Regions from separate parts of the Homo sapiens genome. Here region 2 is linked to region 1. Evidence: fine-mapped expression QTL. A gene starts in region 1. The other region holds a variant in brackets. All regions are shown on one strand. Distances are between the middles of the regions. Region 1 holds the start of BCAS1 (brain enriched myelin associated protein 1). Region 2 overlaps BCAS1 (brain enriched myelin associated protein 1).

The links. PIP is the estimated chance that this variant, and not a neighbour inherited with it, causes the effect.
Region 2: its variant is fine-mapped to the expression of BCAS1 in whole blood (TOPMed, PIP 0.94).

Annotation. Positions count from the first base shown.
Region 1 is chr20:54,065,997-54,074,374 of GRCh38, reverse strand. BCAS1 (brain enriched myelin associated protein 1) reads left to right here and starts at 3,781. Exons shown (of 13, transcript NM_001366298.2): 1 at 3,781-3,942. It overlaps MIR4756 (microRNA 4756), which reads left to right and starts at 5,890; the gene lies at 5,890-5,967. RefSeq lists an enhancer at 4,188-5,062.
Region 2 is chr20:54,038,000-54,046,377 of GRCh38, reverse strand. The region is part of intron 3 of BCAS1 (brain enriched myelin associated protein 1); the gene reads left to right. Among named protein-coding and RNA genes, the nearest start is that of MIR4756, 26 kb to the left of the region's middle. The variant G/T (reference allele first, on the strand shown) is at 3,459.

The DNA of each region.
Region 1 (8,378 bases):
TTCATTAAGTAGACATGGATCATCATAAAGGTTTTCTTCCTTGTCATCTTCACATTGCATAGGCTGAGGAAGAGGAGGAAGAAGAGGGGTTGGTCCTGTTGTCTCAGGGGTGGCAGAAGAAGGGAAAAAATCCATGTCTAAGTGGACTCATGCAGTTCAAACCCTTGTGGTTCAAGGGTCAGTTGTAGTGTTATCTTTGAACTTGGGTTGAGTAAGTAAAATCTGATGAGACAATGAAGCATAGTCATGAGATACAAGCAATATGCAAGTCTACTGTTCATTGCCACCTATTCACATATAACATCCATGATGCCCATGAGCAGAGAATGCCAGTGAGTTCATGACTATTCAGTAAGCCTCAAAGCAAGTAAAACACATGTGAGTTACAGCTGCAATTGAGTATGTGGAGGCACTGACACCCCAAGAGTCCAGGCTTTCCACGCAAATCAGAAATTATCTTCAATACAGAAAAAAGGCAGCACATTCTAAGAAACACAAACAACAAAAGAATCCTATCCTAGCCTTTCTTACCCAGGTTACCTCCCTGTAAGGGCCAACCACTTGTGCTGAAAATGATAACATAGCAAGACAGAAATATAGGGCAGCTTAGAGTTTCTTTTTCTTTTGATTTTTCCTTATTCATCAATAAACTGAAGATAGAGAGCATTAGTAGAATGGGTGAGTATCCAGAGGTAGAGTAAAAACAGTTGAATGATGACTTCTATGCAGCGTTTACACTGTTTTAGTGAGAACAGACTACGGGGGCCCCGTAACTAACTACAAAATACAAGTCGTATGATTTTGGTGATTCTGCCCTCGAGTTCATTGCATTTCAAACCAGCATGGCTTGATCTAAAGACGGATGGCAAAACTCACGCTGATCACTTACATTTTTATTTTTTCTTCCCTTAGAATGACTTCAAATAATAAGTAAAATACATGACAGGTAGAGAAAGAGACCAGGAAGGAGAGAAAACAGCTTTATGTTTCATACCTTTAACGGTACTTTTCCCTGCTTTTAGAACAAAGGGCTCATCGTTTTTGTTTTGCACTGGGTTCAGCAGATTATGTAGCCGGTCCTGCCTCATCACCACTCCTGACTACACCAGCTGATGCTTGGTGATGGTCTACAGTTTGCCAGACCCTTCATCACCACTCCTGACTACACCAGCTGATGCTTGGTGATGGTCTACAGTTTGCCAGACCCTTCATCACCACTCCTGACTACACCAGCTGATGCTTGGTGATGGTCTACAGTTTGCCAGACCCTTCATCACCACTCCTGACTACACCAGCTGATCCTTGGTAATGATCTACAGTTTGCCAGATCCTTCATCACCACTCCTGACTACACCAGCTGATGCTTGGTGATGGTCTACAGTTTGCCAGACCCTTCATCACCACTCCTGACTACACCAGCTGATCCTTGGTGATGATCTACAGTTTGCCAGATCCTTCATCACCACTCCTGACTACACCAGCTGATGCTTGATGATGGTCTACAGTTTGCCAGACCCTTCATCACCACTCCTGACTACACCAGCTGATCCTTGGTGATGATCTACAGTTTGCCAGATCCTTCATCACCACTCCTGACTACACCAGCTGATCTTTGGTGATGGTCTACAGTTTGCCAGACCCTTCATCACCACTCCTGACTACACCAGCTGATCCTTGGTGATGGTCTACAGTTTGCCAGATCCTTCATCAACACCCTTGACTACACCAGCTGATGCTTGGTGATGGTCTACGTTTTGCCAGACACACTGCTGAGTGCCCCCACCTGAATGATTTTTCTTAATCTCCTAAATCACTCATATCCCTAAACCTTATGTTTTTCTTCTGTAAAATGGGAGCAAAAGATCTTAATTTCACTGTGGACATAAATGAAATGGACGGATAAACACAAAAGGCTTTGCAAAGACTAATGCCATCCAAATGGCAGTTACTGCCATGTATAATTTAAAAGAGAGCAAGACAATGGGGAGTGTTAGCTCACGCCTATAATCCCAGCACTTTGGGAGACTGAGGCGGGTGGATCACTTGAGGTCAGGAGTTCCAGACCAGCCTGGCCAACATGGAGAAACCCCACCTCTACTAAAAATACAAAAATTAGCCAGGCATGGTGGTGCACACCTGTAGTCCCAGCTACTTAGGAGGCTGAGGCAACAGAATTGCTTGAACCTGGGAGGCAGAGGTTGCAGTGAGCCGAGATAACACCACTGCACTCCAGTCTGGATGACAAAGCAAGACTCCGTCTTAAAAAAAAAAAAAAAAAGAATGAACAAGTCCAATCAGCCAGGAGTTGCAGAGTACCTACTCTATCATAGAGGGATCCCCATCCTCGTTTTGCAGGGTGCCAGGAGTTGGGGATACAAGAATAGATGCAAAATAAACACAAAGGAGCACACAGCTGAGGGGGCTGACAGAGACTTAGGGAAGTACAGTAGCTTGCTCATAATTCCACAGCCGATCAGTAAGAATCAAGATCCGAGCCCTTGTCTGTCTCAACCCAGGGCCAGAGCTCAAGCTCCTGAGCCTCCAGGCTTGGGTCAGCACAGAGCGTGTGCATGGCAGCTGCTTAATAATTGGGTTTACTACATTCCAGATTGACATGTACAGTGCTGAGCTGGAATCGACTTTACAACCCTAATTACGGTGTGCCTGGTTGTGTATTCAGCATTTATTTAAATAGTATTTTTTTTCTTAAATGTTGATTTCTGAAAGAGGCCTTCCCCAGCTCTCTCTATTTCTCTCCCTTAGCTGCCTTGGCTTTTCTTTTATAATGAGAATCACACCCTGTAATTCTATGTTTATATTTACAGGATTCTATGTCCAATGACACTGAGTGCAAGAAGGGTAGAGACCCAGCATCTTTTACTCACCTCTTTAAACTCTGGCTTATATATATAGCCTGGTGCTTGACAAGTATTCATGATAGGGGTTAAGCTGAGTATACTGTTGAATAAAACCACAATAATTATTGGTCGCAATTCTCTTGAATGTCTTCTCCAGAGCACTAAGTAGTGTAACTTATCAAGTTTCCTTTCTTGCATTGGCTGTTAGGAAGCTCAAAGCCATATCTGCAAACCCTTCATAGCAAGTCTGTAAATCAACAAGAGCATTTATTTTTGATCCTGTTCTCATTTGATGTTCCAAATTTTGTTCTTCAATCTTCTTTTGTTACATGTTATTTCATGCTCTCATAATCTATTGTATATGTCCTTGTAAGACACTTTAAACAACATCCTTGCTTGAATTAAATAAATTGCATAGCCTGTCGAATTTCTGGCCTGCAAAGAAAAAGAATGCCCTTTCCAACATCATGGTATGTCTCCAGAGCAATAAACCACCCTCAGGTTACCTGATTTCTGGTGTCCAAACCCCTTTGGGAATAAGGTTTACATGACTAGGGGTAGTTGAGTGGATGAGAAGCTATTTCCTTCCAATTAGGTGGTTAGGTGGTGGTGGAGGTGGTGTTCTGAAGTCAGCAGACAGAACTACAAAATCTCACAGAACGTGTTTTCCCTGCTCTGACCATGACCTACGGTTACTGGGGAAGGAAACTGCTTCCCCAGGTCAACCCGGCAGCCTCAGTAGGTGAGGGGCACTGGGTAGAATACTTGGGGTGCCAGGGAGGCATTAATGCGAGAGGAGTCAGGTGCTCAGTTTTTATTGGAGTTGGGAGGGCAGCCCCACATCAGGAAGAGAACCTGTTTCTGCAGGATGGTCCGGGGAGAAGGGAGGACTCCACCCAGGCTTGTGTTTGCCCTGCTCTGTGTATTCAGCCAGCAGGCTCTGCACAAGGAAGCAAAGTGCAGGGAGCCAGGCTCCACCGACAGCCAGGCACTGGGCAGCACGCACTGGAGACCCAGGACCCTGTGCAGGAGCAGCTCCGGGTGACACGAGGGGACTGAAGATACTCCCACAGGGGCTCAGCAGGTAACTGCTTTCAGATCCTTTAGGCATGGCTGGAGGGTTTGCTGTTTGTGGTAGACGGTGTCATATAGAGGCCAGGGGTCAGACAGGGTCAAGTTTGATCCCAGCTCTGCCTTCTGTTCACTGTGTGGCCTTGGATATGTGTAAGCCTCAGTTCCACTATCTGTGAAATGGACCCAAAGATAGCACTCATCTCAAAGTTTTTAGTTTTACAAGGAGCAAATGACAATGTGGTCAGTGTTAGGCGCATAGCCACATAAATAACTCCTATTTGGTGGAACTATTGAGGGTCATTTCAAGCACAGGACATGGGGAGAAGTCACTGGATGGAGGGATAGGCTGTGTGATTTGGGGATCCGTCAGGGCAAGAATGCCCCATAGCCGAGTGGAATCTGAGCCTTCACCTCAGGCATTGCCTAAAGAAGTGGGAGGACAAGAAAAAGGACTTGTGGAGTGCCTTTTGTGAATCTTATTTAACGCTCAAGACCACCCTATGAGGCAGCTGCTGATTCAAATCCTGGCTTCAGGACCCCTGCTGTTTACATCTCCCTCTGAACCAGTTTCCTGCCTGGAAGAGTCATTGCGATTAGAATGCGGGTGCGCTGCAGCCACACCGCCAGATGCCAGCCCCAGCTCCACCCTGGGCTGGCTGGGTGCCCTGGAGCAGGTTCCCTCAGCCCTCTGGGCCTCAGTTTCCTCATCTGTAAAGTGAACCTAATAACAGTACTGAGATCAAAGGGCTGAGAGGACTCTACTGCCCGTAAATACCTGTGCACTTAGTAACTCTTAGCTGTGGTTCTTGTTTTCGCTGTTACCATCGTCTCCATTTTACAACTAGGAACATGAAGCTGGGTGAAGAGGGAGCTGCATCTGGTTCCAGGTCTCATGGAAAGGATGCTGTGGAACTGGAGTCCAGTCGGGCCTGGGATGAGGGTGCAGCCAGTGAGACTCTCACCTTGGGCACGAAATGTAAGGGATGCCAAAAAACTCAGTCATGGAGATAAACGGTATGTTAACACAACATTTTTAAAAGTCAGAATTAATGGCAAGACACCCGTGATGAACAAACTATGAACATGTTACAGAAAGATAAGATCAGGAACAGCGGTAATTTTGATTTTCACAAATTTCATGTTAAAATACTATTCATCTCCATGGCTGAGCTTTTTGGTGTCCCTTACATTGTTCCCCCGGAGTCCAGGGCCTGATCCGCCTCAGCCTCCTGGGGATCCTGAGCTGATCACAGCAGCTTCAGGCCCTGGGTGTATATACTCAGGGTATGTAGAGGGTGCTTCCTCCTAAATAAAGACAACAGACGGGGCGGGGCATGCTAAAGTAGTTTCTCATTTAAGTGAGGGTGGGGGAACAAACCAATGTCCCAAATCACAGAAGATTCTTTTTTTCCAAAGAGTTCTGGAACCCAGAAGGGTTTTGTTTTTAGGAAAAAGGCATGAGCTTTGGGAAAAGCAATGGGCCCGTTAAAGCCCATGGATTCTGCCTGCTTTACCATGACAAGAGATGTGGAGGGAGAGGAATTGAAAAAGGCTTTGGGTTGGGGGCGGGGGTACCTTTGCACCTTGCAGGCTCATCTGTCCTGCTGGAGTATTAGATGTGACTTGATTGTCTCTGTGTCTGCAGCTTCTCTTCAAGCCAAGTGCCCTGCCCTGAAGCAGTTCAGGATTTGAGTGCCTGAGTCACGTGGACCCAGGTTCAAACCCCAGGTGTGCCTCCCCGTAGCTTTCTGACTGCTACTCTTGGGCAAGTAGGACTAGTAAGGTGCCTACCCTCATGGAGGTGACGTTCGTGAGATGAGGGGATGGCATTGCTCAGCCTTGGTTTCTTTATCTGTGCAATCAGGGAATAATGGGACTCTGCAAGGGAAAAGGAGACAATGTGTGTGAAGTGCCTGGCACCAGGGTCAGGGCAAGGGTGAAGCCAGTGAGCACCTGGGGGATAAAATGCAGGGAGGCGCTCACTCTCTGCTGCCGATTCTGCACCAGAGATGGTTGCCTTCCTATATTTTGTGTCCTGCTATGCTCACCCTGGTGCTGCCTGGCACATAGTAAGCCTCCAATTAAAATTACCTGCGATTATCATGCACTTAACAATGTTTGGTGCAATAATAAGACTATGAGAGCGAGCTCTAAGATTTTTAGGATTACCATCCGTTTGTGCAAACATAATTAAGTACTCCGAAAGCAAAACATCAATCACCAAGCAGCCCTAAAACATCCAAGGTGATTTTGATCAAGGCACCCCTGCCCCTGGACCCACAAAGTCCCATACCAGGAATCAGGGCTTGGGCAGTTCAGTGAGGACTGGATTTCAGTTCCCTGTGTCCCCTTGTACAGGAGGCAACCTGTAGCACTGTACCTGGCACTCCTGATAATAGCTGCCGTGTTCCTAGCACTGTGCGGGCACACACATGGAGCTGCAGGACTGTGGGGCAGGCAAAGCGGGGTTGTTCTTTCCTCCTGCAAGGTCTTTACTGATGTTGGGGGCAGAGGGCTGGTTCTGCTGGGTGTGCCAGCCTGGCCATGTTGGCGTCACCCTCAGCTGAGCAGTGAGGAGGGCCCCTGGGTTACCTACATTCCATTGCATTGATCGAAGGTGTTGCTTGTTTACTTGGTGACTAATTCTGTCACCATTCCACCCTTCAAAACCACCCCCCCTCCCATTCAACAGTCGTCTAGCTGCCTGCTGGTGATGAAGTTTCAGAAGTGCTTTCTCCAGGCCAGCTTGCATGGGGTTTGGCGTTTGGCCTGTTTCCAGGAGGAGGGCCTATTATTAATCTGTAACTACAAGGAGGCGACATGGACCATCAATCACTGTGTAAAAGAGGAGGGATTTGAGGGCAGCTTCCAGGAGGCCAATTCACTCATGGATCAGAACACAGAACTAACTCAATTATAACAATAATAAGATAAATGAATAATATTAGCAATAACTAACGTTTACTCACCTGAGTACTGCCAAGCCCTGGCGCTAAATCCTTACAGTGATTATCAGTGACCCTTCAATTGTTCAATCCTCACTTTATTTGATTTATTTATTTACTTATTGAGAGAGTTTCATTCTGTCGCTCAGGCTGGAGTGCAGCGGTGTGATCTCGGCTCACTGCAACCTCCGCTTCCTGGGTTCAAGCGATTCTCCTGCCTCAGCCTCCCAAGTAGCTGGGATTACAGGCATTGTGCCTCCACATCTGGCTAATTTTTGTATTTTTAGTAGAGACAGGGTTGCGCCATGTTGGCCAGGATGGTCTCAAACACCTGACCTCAAGTGATCCACCCACCTCAGCCTCCCAAACTGCTGGGATTACAGGCATGAGCCACAGCGCCCGGCCTAATCCTCACTTTAGATTGTACCATATATATTCCTTGCCTAGTTATAATTTTCTCATTGCAAGAATGAATATGCAGGAAATATTTTCTATTCCATGTTCTATTATATTACATATAAATATTTCATAAAACTATAACATCACTTATACAGCAGAAGAGACAGTAGAAAGTATGAAAATAGAAAAGTTAAAAGTCTAAACTCTGGACTTGAGTTTGCGAGGGTTAAGTCCTCATTCTCCCACTTACTAGAAGATGATCTGTATTAGTCAGCTTGGGCTGTGGTAACCAAAACACCACAGACTAGGTGGCTTAAACAACAGTCATTTTTGTTTTCTCATAGTTCTGGAGGCTGGAAGTCCAAGATCAAGGTTCTGGCCGATGCATTTCTGGTGAGACCACTCTTTCTGGCTAGCCAACAGCTGCCTTCTTGCTGTGTCCTCACACGGTTGAGAGAGAGACAGAGAGAGCTCTTTGGTGTCTCTTTTTATAATGACACTAATTCTATCAGATCAAGGTCCACCCTTCTGATTTCATTTAGCCTTGATTCCTTAGAGGCCACATTTCCAAATGCAGTCATATTGCACGTTAGGGCTTCAACACGAATCCAACACGAATTTTGGAAGGACACATTTCAATCCATAGCATGATCTTAAGTGAGGAGTTTAAGTTCCCTGGGCTCAGGTTCTGCATCTGTAAAATGGGGACAATAAAAATACCTGCCTCGGCCGGGCCCGGTGGCTCACGCCTGTAATCCCAGCACTTTGGGAGGCCAAGGCGGGCGGATCACGAGGTCAGGAGATCGAGACCATCCTGGCTAACACGGGGAAACCCCGTCTCTACCAAAAATACAAAAAATTAGCCGGGCGTGGTGGCAGGCGCCTGTAGTCCCAGCTACTCGGGAGACTGAGGCAGGAGAATGGTGTGAACCCGGGAGACGGAGCTTGCAGTGAGCCGAAATGGCGCCACTGCACTCCAGCCTGGGCGACAGAGCCAGACTTCGCCTCAAAAAAAAAAAAAGAAAAAAAATACCTGCCTCATCGGGTTCTGATAAGGAAGCTGTGAGTTAACACAGAGAAGCATTCAGAGCAATGGCTGGCA
Region 2 (8,378 bases), 28 kb after region 1:
TTCTGTATTTTTAGTACAGACGGGGTTCCACTATGTTGGGCAGGCTGGTCTCAAACTCCTGACCTCGTGATCCACCCACCTTGGCCTCCCAAAGTGCTGGGATTACAGGCATGAGCCACCGCACCCGGCCCTGAATTCTTAATGCATGGAATCATGACCTAATAAAATGGTGGTTAAGTCAATCATTTTGGGGATGCTTGTTACACAGCCATAGATAACTGAAATAACTATTAGTATGCATTTTAATTCTTTGTATTTTATTTTTACATGCATATATACTTACATACATACCAATTAACATATATGAATAAATGCAATCATATTTTCTGTTATTGTTGTTTTGGTGAAACCTGTCTTTTTCTTTTTCTTATTGGCTTCTTCCTCATCTCACATCTTCCCTACCCCCTCCAAGGACACCCAAGCTAACAACCTAATATTTCTTCTTTCATATTTTTCTCTTTGTTCTATACTTTGTAAAAGACAAATCTGAGACACAATAAAATTTCAAAGAGTGTATCTGAATAGAGGCAATTCATTAATTTGAGAAAAGAAAACCAAAAGGGAATTAGTGTTTTGATGACAAAGCATTACATGCCAGAATTAAGGGAAAATGCAGAGGCATAATATAAAATGTGTTTGATGTGTTACAATTACACAGTTGCCTTATTTGATCATCTCATTGGAAGGTACCCAGTTATATAATTTTAAGTTTGTTGACTGTTTCTGATTGGTTGAGCTCAAGTTCTGTTTTTCTTTAGCATAGGCATTTACAAGAAACAGTTCGAGTTGTTTTGCTTATGTCTGCAAATCAAGCAAGGTTTAGCTCATTTATGTGGTCTAACAGGCTTTGTCCGCTCAGGGATTCTTCAGGTCTGGTCTTTATTTTAATTTACTTTAACTAGCCCCATACAGACATTTCCCAGCACATCCATTAATAGTGTTTGTTTTTTTTTAATTGTAATAATCTTCCCCATCTCAACTCCAAATTCAACTGGTATAACTTTAATTCATTTTTTTTAAAGCTACAATGTACTTCAAGGTATAGACATACTATAATTCATTCAGCCATTATGCTAATTTTGGGCATTCAGTTTTTTTCTTATTTTTCTCTGACAATTTTTACCTGGGCGTAAGTTTTTTGTTTTGTTTTGTTTTTTTTTTTTTTTTGAGATGAGGTCTTGCTCTGTCACCCAGCTGGAGTGCAATGGCATGATCATCACTCACTGCAGCCTTGACCTCCAGGGCTCAAGGAATCCTCTTGCCTCAGCCTCCTGTGTAGCTGGGATCACAGGCACACACCACCACACCTGGCTAATTTTTTAGTTTTTTTGTAAAGATGAGGTCTCCCTTTGTTATCCAGGCTGGTCTCAAACTCCTGGGCTCAAGTGACTGTCCCTCCTTGGCCTCCCACATTGCTGGGATTAGAGGCACGAGTCACAGCACTCCTCTGGCATAAGTATTTTTAAACTCGTAATGTTTATCCAATATTAAAAGTTATTTGGAATACACTTAGAAAATTTCTTTTTTTCTTTTTTTTTTTGAGACAGAGTCTCCTTCCGCTGCCCAAGCTGGAGTGCAGTGGTATGATCTCAGCTCACTGCAACCTCCGCCTCCTGGGTTCAAGCGATTGTCATGCCTCAGCCTCCCTAGTAGCTGAGATTACAGGCGCGTGCCACCGCATCTGGCTAATTTTTGTATTTTTAGTAGAGATGGGGTTGCACTGTGTTGGCCAGGCTGGTCTCAAACTCCTGACCTCAGGTGATCTGCCCACCTTGGCCTCCCAAAGTGCTGGGATTATAGGCATGAGCCACCGCGCCCGGCCGGAAAATTTCTTCTTCACATTTTTCAAAAATAAAACATTGGCATTTCTGTTTTAAATTTTTAAGGACTTTTTTGTACTTACCATGACAGATACTCTGGACACAACTTACTGTTCCATGACTCATACAGTCTGATTTTAACTGTCATGCAACTGCTGTTGAGTAATATGCAACTTTCTCTTTGCCTCTTTGGATGGAGAAGAAAACAAGGCAGCACAGTTGGGCTCCAAAGATAAAAACATGGGCAGGGTTTCAAGATCACTCATCTCTGTCTTGGAGGATAGACCAAGAGAGATAGGACAGACCAAGAGACAACATGAAAAAAACATGAAAAGAGAAACAGCATTGAGAAATAACAACAGCTGCACTCAATTCTTTTCCTCAAGGTGCATTTTAACCAGATCTTGAAATAGAATAAACACACCTACAATTCTAATCCTAGAGTGGACATTTTTTTAAAATCAGCTTTTCATATCCTTTTACCACACCAAAAAGAACTTACCAACAATTTTCATTTAACAAAAATAAAAATAATCAGCGAGATCAAAGAAATGGTAAGGTGCGCTTCAAGTTTCTGGAAGTTTATCAATAAAAGCAGCATACTGTATTAGTGGGTAGGATCCATTATATGCAAAGCATACCCCAAAGAGCAAATGTTTCTGGGAACAAGAACTGAAAAATGTAAGCAGAGCCTGCCTCCTTGTGTGGGTGCAATAGCAGTGCCCAATAGCAGTGACTCGCAGAGTTGTCCCTGGGCCAGCAGCATCACATCACCTGGGTACCGGTTAGATGTGCAGTTTCTGTAGCCGGAGCCCAGACCTCCTGAGTCAGAAACACCCCCTTCCCTGGGGGTGGGGCCCAGCTATCTGTTCCCACAACCCCTCCCGGGTATTCTTGCACTAGCTCAAGTCTGAGGACCATGTAAGAACTGGCTCAAGGCTCTGAATGAAATGGAGTTTGCAGGGAACTGGAAAGCGTCCTTGTTTATAGGGCTCCACACAGCTTCAAGGATGGCTGCCCTGGGAAACCCTGAGCCAATAATAAGATATTTCAATAACAGCCTGATTTTAGGACTTTTAAATGAAATTTCCCAATTCAAAAAAATATAAACACTGTGTTGGCCAAACCATCAGCAGACCTCATAGTTGGCAACCTCCGATAGTGTGAGGTTTATTTTTTTCCCTACCTCAAATCCCTCTAAAAAGATGGCTATAAAAAAAATCATCGTCATCATCATCATCATCATCATCATCATCATCAAGTTATCATAGCTTCAAGCAATGAAACATTGAAATCCTGTAACCAATTTCAGCTGTGCTTGCAGATTTGTGGGCTCTCCAGGCATCCTGCCCGTCACAATGTGCATCCCATCTGTGTTTTCCACAGAGAGGGACAGTGGTGGGATGTTACCAGTGGCTGGCCCCCTTTGCAGCTTTCTGTCACGTAGTCTTAAGCCAGTAAGTTGGCTATGTGGTTAATTCATGAGTCCTCTTAAAAATGCCTTCTGAGAGTTACATCAGCTCCAGGTGATATAAAAAGAAAAGCTGGATTTTCTGAATTTGCCAAGCAGAGGCTCAGACTCTGCAACATGGAGATGTCCCTAAGGCCATGACACTCTCAGCAAGCAGGGCCCACCTG[G/T]CCTATCAGCCCCTCCATTCAAAGCTGATGCTCATTGGTTAGAACCTGCCTCGCTGCTGGGCCAGCCCTAGGCAAATTGGGAAATAGGTCAAGTGTTCAGTCCACTTTGAATCCCACCTCTCATTTCTAGTTCCCTACTTTCATTTTTTCTTTTCATTATTTCTTCATTTCTTAATGGATGGGGTAGGTGCATACACATAGCAAACATTCTGAGCGATATACATAATAAGATAAGGCAGAGAAAAAATCCCCACCCTAACTCTGATGGCTCCCCAAGCCCCATCCCAAATTTCCTTCCTTAGAAGTAAATACTTTACAGTTTCTTATATCCAGAGGTATCCCAGGCATGTCTATTTATAAGTTGTCTCCTCAACCTCCCGACACCATTTTTTAAAAACAAATGGAAACATACTGTACGTGCTGTTGGGCACAGCTTTTTCTTTCCTTACTAAAATTCCTTGGGGAATTTTAATGCCTGTGGAATATTTCATTGTAGGGACATATGATTATTTATTTTTTTAAACTTTTATCTAGGTTCAGATTACATGTGCAGGTTTGTTATAAGGTAAACTCATGTCATGGGGGTTTGTTGTACAGATTATTTTTTCACCCGGGTACTAAGCCTAGTACCCACTAGTTATTTTTTCTGATCGACTTCCTCCTCCCACCCTCAAGTAGGCTCAGTGCCTGTCATTCCCCTCTTTGTGTCCCTGTGTCCTCAAGGACATATGATAATTTATTTAACCAGGTTTCTACTAATAAGCGTTTAGGTCATTTCCAGTTTTTTGCCACAACTACAGTAGTCCAGCAAATAGTTCCATACGTAAGCCTTTGTACCCCTATGCAATTTTATTTCTAGGATAACATTTTAGAAGTGGAAGTTAGACTTACAGTGTTTGTGAAATTTTAAGTATTAATAGATATTACTGAGCTATTTTCCAAAGAAGTGGCCAAATTACACTCCCACCGACGATCTATATGGCTGTTCTTTTTTTTTTTTTTTTTTTTTTGGGGGAGACAGAGTCTCACTCTGAACTCTGTTGCCCAGGTTAGAGTGCAGTGGCACAATCTCGGCTCACTGCAACCTCTGCCTCCCAGGTTCAAATGATTCTCCTGCCACCGCCTCCCAAGTAGCTGAGATTACAGGCGCCCGCCACTACGCCCAGCTATTTTTTGGTGTTTTGTTTTGTTTTGTTTTTTAGCAGAGACAGTGTTTCACCATGTTGGCCAGGCTGGTCTTGAACTCCTTACCTCATGATTTGCCCACCTCGGCCTCCCAAAGTGCTAGGATTACAGGCGTTAAGCCACCGTACCCAGCCACAGCTGCTCTTTTTTTATACGCTTTCCACTGGGGTCATCAATTGTCTCCTTTTTAACCAATTTGGCAAGGGAAAGCCAAGTGTCATAATTTTATTGTGCTTTTATTTTACTATTTATGAGGCCAAACATCTTTTCTTCTGCTTAAAAGCTGGCTGCATGTCTTTTCCTGTGAACTCTTCACTCCTATTTGTTGTCTGTTTCCTACCCCCACCCCTTGGTGCTGTGTTGCTGTTTATTTATCTAATTCTTCTTTTTACAAATTGAGGTACAATTCACCTACCATAAAATTCACCTTTTAGAGTGACAATTCCGTGATTTTAAGGATATTTGCACCATGTGTGCAATCGTTCCACGTCTAATTCCAGAACATCGTCATTACTCCAAAACAAAACTCCCTACCCTTTAGCGCTGAGTTTTTTCCCTATTCCCAGCCACTGGCAACCACTAATCTGTTTTCTGCCTCTATGGATTTGCCTATTCTAGACACTTTATATAAATGGAATCATACAATATTTTGCTTTTTGTGTCTGGCGTCTTTCACTTAGTACCATGCTTCCAAGTATAAAGCATGATATAACATGGATCGGTGCTTTGTTTCTTCTTATGGCTGATTAATACTCTATTATATGCAAATGCTAGATTTCCTTTTTCCAATTGATGGATATTTGGGTTGTTTCCACTTTTCAGCTATTATGAAAATGCTGCTATGGACATTTGTGTACAAGTTTTTGTGTGGCCATATGTTTTCATTTTCTTGCTTACCTAGGAATGGAATTGCTGGGTCTTAGGGTAACTCCATGTTTAACTTTTCCAGGAACTGTTAAACTGCTTTCCAAAGCAGCTGCACCATGTCACATTCCTACCAGCAATGCATGAGCATTCCGATTTTTTCACATCTTCCCTACCACTGGTTATTGTCTCTCTGATTATGGCCATCCTCGTGGGTGTGAAGACGTATCATGCTGTGGCTTTGACTGCACTTCCCTAATGAGATGACATTAGGCATCTTTTTATGAGTTCCTTGGCCATTAGTATATCTGCTCCAAAGAAAACACTATCATCCTGATTTGGCTGCTTTGCTGCACCCTGAGCCTCTTGTCTCTGTTTCCTGGCTAATTTTTCCAGAGTCTCAAAGTAATAATAGTCACCCTTTGGCAATCTTCTATGTGTCCTGAACTCAACCTGCCCCACAACCGTATCTCCACAGCTGACCCGTGGTGTCCTAACAACTGAAGCCACTGATAGAATAATAGGCCACCTCCCCTGGTAAGCTGCTTACCACTTAAAAGGTGCTTGAGACACTCATTGCTGCTGGAAATGTGAATCTGTAGAGCCTTTTTAAGAAAATAATATGGCAGTGTCTGTTTTTCAAAACTAAATGCATATTGATTTGAGGGTAACACTTCTACATCTGTGCCTCTATTCTATAGAAATATAGCACCAGTTTAGGATTTTTGAACACGAAAGTTTATTCCACTATAGTGGAAATGGAAAAAACAATGTGGAAACTACCAGGATATTCATTGATTAGGCAATGGTTTAAATATCTTTTGGTATATCCATACTGAGGAATATTATGCAGCTATTTTAGAAGATAAGATAGCTTTGGAGCTATTGACTGTGAAGACCAACTATAATGTACAAAAGTCATCAGAAAATATGTCTAATGTGATCCAATTTCTATAAAAACAACAAGGACAGATACAGTCCCTGTATATGTGTATCTGGGATGCTTATACGTGTTTGTGTGAGTATAAACAAAGTTCAATATGCCACATCAGGTTGCAGATGTTATTTATCTGGCAATGAGGGTGGAGGATAGAGACAGGAAAAACAAAGGGTTCAGAGAGATTAATTATTTTGGTTGTAAACACGGGTTAAATGTACATTATTATCAGATTTATAAAAAAAATCAAATGAAACATCTGATTTGTCTTTAAATGAAAATATATGCTCATGTTGGAGCAAAGGCTGGTTTTGCATTTGAATGAGCTTTGCATATTCCAGAGTTTTGTAGCACATGAATGACAGGAAATATATGATTAAAGAGAAGAGTGGAAATCTTGAGTGTCACTGTCAGTCTTGCCCCACAGTATCTGATCATCACTGTTGCTTTTAGAGGATGTTTTCTGAAGAGCATGGGGGTAGTAGTACCTTTGCCTACATTCCTTTGGAATCCAGCATTTCCATCACTAAATGTCCAGACATGTTGTATAAAGCTGATAGTCAAGAATTCTACCATGATGTTCCAAAATCCCATCCTTTTCTTTTATTTATGCTAGAATTTCTTGGCAAAGACATTCTGGCTTTTTAATGTACAGATGAAAAGCATGAAATGCGATCATTCAGTGAAAGTTTCAAATCTAATCTAACGTCTTCCTCCAAGTCATAAGTATCTGCCACGTGTACCCTGACTTTACGACCTTTAAAACAACAAATGCATTTGCACAACATAGAAAGCCGCAGTTGTTTGAAGTGTCATTTGACTCTTGCAGCATGACCATTGAAGGGTCATTTTTGCATAATTTTTTGAGGTCTTCATAAAGTTTTGAGTTTTCCCAAAGGCCTAACATAATCTTTTGATATTCTAATATAACTCTTTTGAAGAACTTACTGTGTTGTGTTGTCCACTTTTCCTTCTTCGGTGATCTGTGTTAACTTTGCCAGATCCTTGTCCAACCACGGTCATGTGTGTGATCTGAGCAGCTCACCAATGTTACAAGACTCTATAAACCCCTGCATCTTTTGCAAGATGTACAATTTCCCTTTGCAATTAGTGTGTATATGTCCACTTTATCCTGAATCCTGACAGATCAGGATATTGATGCATAGGACGGTGTTGCTTGCATAGGAAGAGATGATTCGGCGGTGAATAATGTTCATACATGGACACTTTGTAAATAAAATTATAATGATAGTTCCTGCTTTCCCCTTTAAACTGAAAGCTTGGAGGATTTGGATAATGTATTGTCAGAAAAAGAAATTTCATCCAGCACAACATTAGTCTCTTCTCAGAGACTCAGTTTCCCAACCTGTTCATTGGTGTGCCCTACTACAGTTACAATCATGGTCCTTTGTGGAGTGTTTGCTAGGCTGTGCCCCAAGCTCTGTGCTTGCTGCTTCACCCATGTTTCCTGGCTTAATCCTAGTGTCTAGCACTATGGGAACTGGAATCCAGCTGTAAGCAGAGCAGACCAAGTCCGGGTCCACTTGGGGCTTACAGGTCGTGGAGAGGAAACAAGTGAAGAAGAAATTAATGGGATCATTTCAGAGAGTGATGAATCCTCTGTGGAGTCTAGAGAATAAACAGGAGTAAGCAGGAGGGGTTACTTCAGATGGAGGAGTCAGGGAAGGCCTGACATAACCTAAGTCTTGAATGATAAGAAGGTAACCATAGGAAGATCTTAGCGAAAATATTTCCAGATTGAAAGAATAACTAGTGGTGAGGGCTGCAGGTGGAAACATGTTGGTATGTTGAGAGGTGTGAGGAAAAACATAGTACGAGCTGAAGTTCTGGAGGGTGTGGCCCATAGTAGAGAGTTTGGATTTTGTTTTAATTTTGTGAGGCCCTTCTTTGGATGGTTTTATGCAAATGAATGA